2 linked regions of the Homo sapiens genome follow. The protein of the gene in region 2 interacts with the protein of the main gene of each other region in a pairwise test. Each region holds a gene or a part of one and is shown on either strand. Other genes may lie near its edges.

Region 1 (3,753 bases), on a different chromosome or scaffold from region 2:
TGAGGCAGGAGAATGGCATGAACCCGGGAGGCAGAGCTTGCAGTGAGCCGAGATCGCGCCACTGCACTCCAGCCTGGGCGACAGAGCGAGACTCCATCTCAAAAAAAAAAAAAGAAAAGAAAAGAAAAAGAAAAAGAAGAGGAGGGTTCCAGGCACAGGTACAAAGGCACATAAGTGGGAAAATGTATGGCTCCTTCAGGGACCACAGTAGTTCCGTGTGGCTGGTGTATGGAAGGTGGAGCCATGGTATGAGATGAGGCCATTTTCACTGCACGCACAGAAAAATGACAGTATTCATACATGCATATGAGGATAACTGGAGAGGTTGCTCGGGGCCCAGAGCAGCCTGCATCTCAGCATACTTATACCCTGTTCAGGAAGCTGTGCTGTAGAAGATGGGTTGGAGAGCTTTCCACCTTGGAGTGACACAGTCAGATCTAAGTAATATCAAGAGTCCCCTGGAGAGTGATACAGGGGCAGAGAATAAAGGCAGGAAGTGGTCAGGAAGGAGACCCCGGCTATAATCCAGGCAAGAGGCAATGAGGGCTCACATAAGGTAGCAGTGGTGGAAAAGGAGGTGAATTACAGATAAGCTTTAGGTTAAAACAATAGCGCTGGTGACTGGTGGGATGTGGAAGGAAAAGGAGAGACAGGAACATGCTGGGCAGGTGTCAAGCAGCACCACTGATTACGACAGGAAACCATGAGAGAGGCAGAGTGTAGAAAAGGCATCGTGGAAGAGGCAGTCTCAAAAGTCAGCCTTGCAGTTAGGCACAAAATAGTCTGGAGTGGAAATAGTAGGTGCCAAGGCACAGAGGTGGGCATGGCAGGTGTCCGTTCTGGGCTAAGCAGCAGAAAAGCAGGCAAGAAGAACCACATGAGAACAAGCTACAGTTGGCCCGCCCAGAGCGTCTTGGGACGCTGAGTTCTGAGAGACATGCGCCTTCATTTGCCCTGGCCCTCAGAACCAGTCTAAATCCTCAGTTCGGCTGCCTTCTCTCTGGGACAGCCCTGAGTGGGAAATAGAGGGTAGCAGTGCAGGGCCCTTCTGGAAGCTTCTCCAGCTGGCCTGAATCACCTTGTGCTCATCAGGGTTCCTCAAATGCAGAGTGGTTCCTAGACAGCCCGAGTCTGCCCTCAGGCACCTATCATTTTGACAACTCATCAATCACCCACCCTGTCTGTGGCTCTTCAGGAACTCAGCGTTTCTCTTAGACCTCGAGCCTCCGAGAAGACGCTGTGCTACGCCCCCAGGGGCGACTTCCGGTCATTGCAGCACCGTGATGTGGATCCGCAAGTGAACCATCAGGGCTGAGCTACGACTGAAGGCCTTCCCACAGTCGCTGCACTTATAAGGCTTCTCTCCCGTGTGGATCCTCTGGTGCTCAATGAGGGAGGAGCTCTGTGCAAAGGCCTTCGGACAAACCTTACACTGATATGGCTTCTCTCCAGAGTGGATTCTCAGATGTCGGATCAGGGCTGAGCAGTCGCTGAAGGCTCGGCCACACGCGTCACACTTGTAGGGCTTCTCCCCGGTGTGGATGCGCTGGTGTTGAGTCAGGTGCGTGCTCTGGCTGAAGGCTTTCCCACACGCGTCACACTCGTAGGGCCGCTCCCCCGTGTGCACCCGCTGGTGCTGGGTGAGGTGAGTGCTGCGGCTGAAGGTTTTACCACATTCCCCACATTTGTAGGGTTTCTCTCCAGTATGAATCCTTTGGTGCTGAGTCAGGTGGGTGACTCGGCTGAAGGCCTTCCCACATTCCTTACACTCATGGGGCTTCGCCCCTGTGTGGACAACCTGGTGCTGGGCGAGGTGAGTGCTCCGGCTGAAGGCTTTCCCACACTCGCTGCAGGCATATGGGGTCTTCCGAGAATGGGTCTTCTGGTGTGCCTCGAGCGCCGAAGCACTCTGGAACATCTTCCTACACTCGCGACACTTGGAGGACCTCTTCCCTGAGTAGGTGTATGGAGGCTCTGTCCCATAAGCATCCACCAGATCAAATTTGTCTTCTGAAGGAGGCTTCTCTTGGGAGGTGAGGTTTGGCCACGCACTAGAACTGTTCCTCGAGGCACCAGATTCACGGCCACGCTGGTCTGTGGGGACATCCTTGTAAGGCCCTGAAGTTTTCTTGAAGTGGATCTGTTGGGTGACAGACTTTGTCCAGATCTCCCCTGATAGTCCAGACCTCTCTGAGCTGCCCTCAGGTTCACATGCCTTGACAAAGGCGGGTCCAAGGGAAACACCTCCCATGAGGGTCTCAGTGACATTTGATGGCTCTGACTCTCCCAGGTCACTCTGCTTGCAGCTTGCCTCTGTGGGCTCGGCTCCTGGATCCCATCCTGAAACAGTCCGAACCACACTGTCACTCCTCCTACCACACCAAGCCTCCCCTACTCTGCCGAGGGCCCCGGTCACACTTTGTAAGGGGAGATGTGGCCCGTTCCTAACATCTGGCCCCAGTTCCAAGGGGAAGTTTCTCATTTGGTGTCTTGGATGACAAAGGGTGCAGGGCTGTCCTCCCACACCATCCAAAACTACACCATGGGTTCTGATTTCTCCTCCTCCCACCAAACTCGCCATCTTTCAAGGCTCCCAATTTTGGCTCAAGAGTCAAGAGGAGAAACCCTGATGTGGAACTGATCTGGAGACAGAGAGAGAGGGAGGGTCTGTCCTTGTCAGGACCCTGAGCACATGCACCCCTGCAGGCTCTGATCTCTGTGGGGTTGCAGTTCTGTCCCTCACACTCAACACCTTGCGTCTAGGCCTGGATGTGTCCCCTGCAGGCTCTGATCTCTGTGGGGTTGGAGTTCTGTCCCTCACACTCGACACCTTGCGTCTAGGCCTGGATGTGTCCCCTGCAGGCTCTGATCTCTGTGGGGTTGGAGTTCTGTCCCTCACACTCGACACCTTGCGTCTAGGCCTGGATGTGTCCCCTGCAGGCTCTGATCTCTGTGGGGTTGGAGTTCTGTCCCTCACACTCGACACCTTGCGTCTAGGCCTGGATGTGTCCCCTGCAGGCTCTGATCTCTGTGGGGTTGGAGTTCTGTCCCTCACACTCGACACCTTGCGTCTAGGCCTGGATGTGTCCCCTGCAGGCTCTGATCTCTGTGGGGTTGGAGTTCTGTCCCTCACACTCGACACCTTGCGTCTAGGCCTGGATGTGTCCCCTGCAGGCTCTGATCTCTGTGGGGTTGGAGTTCTGTCCCTCACACTCAACGCCTTGCGTCTAGGCCTGGATGTGTCCCCTGCAGGCTCTGATCTCTGTGAGGTTGCGGTTCTGTCCCTCACACTCAACACCTTGCCTCTAGGCCTGGATGTGTCCACAGGTGCTCAGTGAATTCTGGCTGAATGAGGGAATCCATCCAGAAGCCCACGATGGTGAAAATTTCTGCAAGTAGAACCCCAGGTAGAATATGGCTGCTGGGGGTGAGTACATGAGGTACCCATCTGGCCTCTCAAGCCCCTACATTGTAAAGTACTATGAAGGCAGAGTGTGGCGGAGGTGCTCTTGGAGATCAGAGTGTGCATGAGGTAGAGGAATGCTCGCACTGACCTGCCCTGCATGGGTGCAAAGGACACATAATCTGGCACATCTACTGGATGGATTCCAGGGAGGAGGCAGAGACAGGTGGAATACCCACTGCTCAAGTCCACAGTGGGGCTCAGCAGTGCAGAAACTGGACTCAAACCCCAGGTCTACCACCTTAATCAGTCCTGCCCTCATCTGGGACTCAGTCTCCCCATCTGTAAGC
Region 2 (3,753 bases):
CAGGCCTGAGACATAGCACCTCGCCTGATGATATTCTCTTAAAAAAACAAAATATAACCTTGCAAAGGTTATACTGCCTCTTCAAGAAACATTTCTTTCACCAATAAATAAAAGCTACAAACTTTCCCCTAATAAATTATATTACGACTAATGTCACAGGAATGACAATATTTTTGAGCTGGAAGAGACCTTTGAGAGCCTCTAATCCAATGCTCTCATTTTACAGATGAAAAGAGGCTGTAAAGTATAATGGAAAAAAAAAACCAACCTGAGAGTCAGAAAACTGAATTTTGGGCCCAACTGTCTTACAGTGAAAGCCTGTGCAAATTATCTGCTTCCTCATCTGTAAAATGAGAGGTTTGTACTAGATTGCTTCCAAGATCCGGTTCAGCTCTGTAATTCTTAGTTTATGGAACTGAAGCAGAGATAAGCAACTTGCCCAAGGTCACACAGCTAGTTAATAGCAAAGTAAAGACTATCCTCAGATCCCAACTACAATCACTTTCTCCCCTATACCATACTGCTTCTACTACTTCATAACAATATTCCTGTAATTTATTTTAAGATTCTTGAAAATTATTAACAAGCATGAAGGAGTTTATGAAACTACATGACTGATTTCTACAGCTCTTCTATAGGAAATGAGCTTTAAATCCAAATGCAACAAGTACATGAGGTCTCAAGCTGGGTATTATTACTTACTACACTTATTAATATTAAATTGACCCCAAGAAAGTTATGAGAATTTATGCTTAAATTCCCACCACCTAAAAATCCAACTCACAGAAGAGATTATGTGCCATGCAAAATTAAAATATGAATTGTTATAAGTAATGATACATATTATAGGTATAATTCTAGGAATAAGATGAGAATTTAAATTCTTCATTTTATGTTCTAGTTATACTTAATATGCATTTTAAATTCAAAAGAGATCAATTTAAACACTTTTCTTTCTTCTTCCCTCTTTTCAGACTCTCTAGCTTTAAAAACATTAGAATAACTTAAGCATATTACTTCTGAAATCACGTAAACAATTACAAATAAAAGACTATATAAACTATGCTCATAATTTCTCTTACAAAATTGAAAATCAGCCCCCATAGTATTCTAAAATTCTGTGCTGAAATATATTACAACTCTACTAAACTGTATCATAAACAGCATTTGGTTCTCTAAAATGTCTTAAGCTTATTATATTTCACAGGGAATTTAGCAAGATTTCATGAAGACTGATCTTGCTGACACAAGAAAAGACAGAAAAATCCTCAGAGGAAAAGCACAATAAAAATGCAAAATAGTAATAAAGTCAACAACAACAGTAGTTTCATACTACTGACTTGCAAGAACATTCAAAAACGTTAATGAATATATATAAGTATAGTTTAACTATATTTAGGGATTTTTAAAAAATCACAGAATGTTTACATTTTTAAATTGGATGAAGCCTTAAGTCACTAATCCAATAGCACTCATCGTAAGAATCTACAGAATTTATCTCCACCTCCCCAAAAAATATGTCCCTGTAGTCCACTTTAAATTCTCAAAACTAACTACTTCTTTCCATTGTTGTTAGCTGTTGCGAGTTCCATTGTTGCTCCACTGTTCCACTGTTCCAAGTCTAGTTGTCATACAGTTCTTACATTCTGGTAAAAAATTAGACTGACCTCAATGTCTTCCTAATTTTCACCCGTTGGTCTGCCTTCTAAAGCAGGAGAATGGATCTATTCTCCCTCCTATTTATTAAAATTAACAGGTTTTTAAATCCTATTTACTGAAATCCAAGTTTCTTAAATACCTGGAGACAGCTATCACGTCTCCCAACCGTTAGTCTCTTCTTTAAATGTATCTTCCATAGACTTCCTGTAGGTCCTAGAGACATTTTTGGAATACAATATGCTTTCACATTGTCAGTAACTTAAAAAACAAAAAACAAAAAACTGCCACTTGTTGAATTTTGATGTAATACCAAAGAAGAATACTCACTCTTTCCTTTTCCAACCATATATCTACATGAAGCTGGATTCTCTTCACATATCTCAACCAAAACATCATAACAGACTGAAGGCAGACAAAAAATCCAGCTGTCTTCTCCAAGTAAGCCAGAAATCAAGGTGATTTGCAAAAATATAAAACAATGCCACTGGTCTAGTTTCTTTGGTTTTAGGACATATTTATTCTTCATAAAAAATTCTATTTACAACACAGTTTAAATTAATAAATATATTTGAAATTGTCATTTAATTTCTAAAAGAGCAAATATTAGTAGATATAATCTACATAAACCTAAATCTCTTGGGGTCCTCAATAATTGTTAAGAGAGTAAAGAGGCCCTGAGGCCAAAAGGCTAAAGCATAGTCTATTTCTCATAAGATTTTCAAACCTCCGTTCTGGTTTCTCTCTTTTATCTCTCTCCTCTAATATGTAAATGTGCCATTGTAAAGGAGACATCTGTCACATATCTATTCATGAGCTAGAATCCTTAAACACATAACCCTGTCCTCCTCCAGCTAGTGATTTCAAAAAATTAAAGGCCTACAGGGCCATCTGGTACACCTTCGTTTTTAACATCTCATTACTAAATCATCTGAAGTCAATTACTTTAATTCTTCTAAGGAATGCAGTCTTTAAATATGGAAACAGAGGAAGTTTACAGTTTAATCGAACTATCATGCCATCTTTTTTTTGAGAAAGTATCTCACTCTGTCACCCAGGCTGGAATGCAATGACGCTATCTAGGCTTACCGCAGCCTCCACCTCCCAGGCTCAAGCAATCCTCCCAACTCAGCCTCCTGAACCATGCCCAGCTAATTTTTCTATTTTTTGTAGAGACAGGGTTTCACCATGTTGTCCAGGCTGGTCTTGAACTCCTGAGCTCAAGCAATCCACCTGCCTAGGCCTCCCAAAGTGCTGGGATTACAGGCTTGAGCCACCACTCCTGGCCCATACAATCTTTTTGACCAAGCTTTCACTATTTACAAAAAAGTAAAGCAAATTATTTATAATTGGCAGGTTGGAGCAGGAAAGAAAATGCAAGTGTTCTATATAATCAATCATCTGATTCTCAGCAATAACCCATTCAAAAGTACCCATGTACTGATATGCAAAAAAACCCAACTACTTATCTAGCCAATATGACACTAGGTTCCTAGACTTCAACAAAGCAAAACTGGCCTTTACTTGAAAACCTTTTTAACTCGTCACTCCCTTAATCACAGGATTATAGAAGACAAAATGGGATGGAGATTATAGGTTTAAAAGATTCAACAGAAAATCTAGAGCTACATCGCTGAACTCCTCTAACAGAACCACAAGACTGACAAGCGAAAAGCTTTGGGACCCGAGGGAAAGAAATCTATACTATATTTATCACATAATTTCCTAAATTCTAATAGATTCCCAAATCTTATAGAGCTGTATTTTATTTGTGATAAAACTATGTGAATATGATAATGGTAATAAGGTAAAAAGAAACAAAACTACAACATACAGCATCAAAAATAATCAGATCATAATCTTAGGTTTGTGGTTTCAAATGTCAAAACTTCAAAATAAGTAACTTTTACAGATGCTTATGGCATATTTTTAAAAATAACCCATTTTCAAAGTTAAGTCTGCCTAAAAGGAGTTCATCACATAGAATATTTATGTAAGTTCACATACATGTGTATCTCTTTTAAGTTTCAATTATTCTATTACTATATGTTAAACTGACTCAATTTTTCAAGAAACAAAGTTAGTTTTCACCGTGAT

The links.
Region 1: the proteins of TLK1 (region 2) and ZSCAN22 interact in binary tests that used the Homo sapiens proteins (3 or more experiments, as listed by UniProt).

Annotation. Positions count from the first base shown.
Region 1 is NC_000019.10:58,336,841-58,340,593, reverse strand, and holds part of ZSCAN22 (zinc finger and SCAN domain-containing protein 22), read right to left. Parts: intron 2,341-3,753; coding exon 1,268-2,340; 3' UTR 1-1,267. UniProt on the Homo sapiens protein: May be involved in transcriptional regulation.
Region 2 is NC_000002.12:171,154,162-171,157,914, forward strand, and holds part of TLK1 (serine/threonine-protein kinase tousled-like 1), read right to left. Parts: intron 1-3,753. UniProt on the Homo sapiens protein: Rapidly and transiently inhibited by phosphorylation following the generation of DNA double-stranded breaks during S-phase. This is cell cycle checkpoint and ATM-pathway dependent and appears to regulate processes involved in chromatin assembly.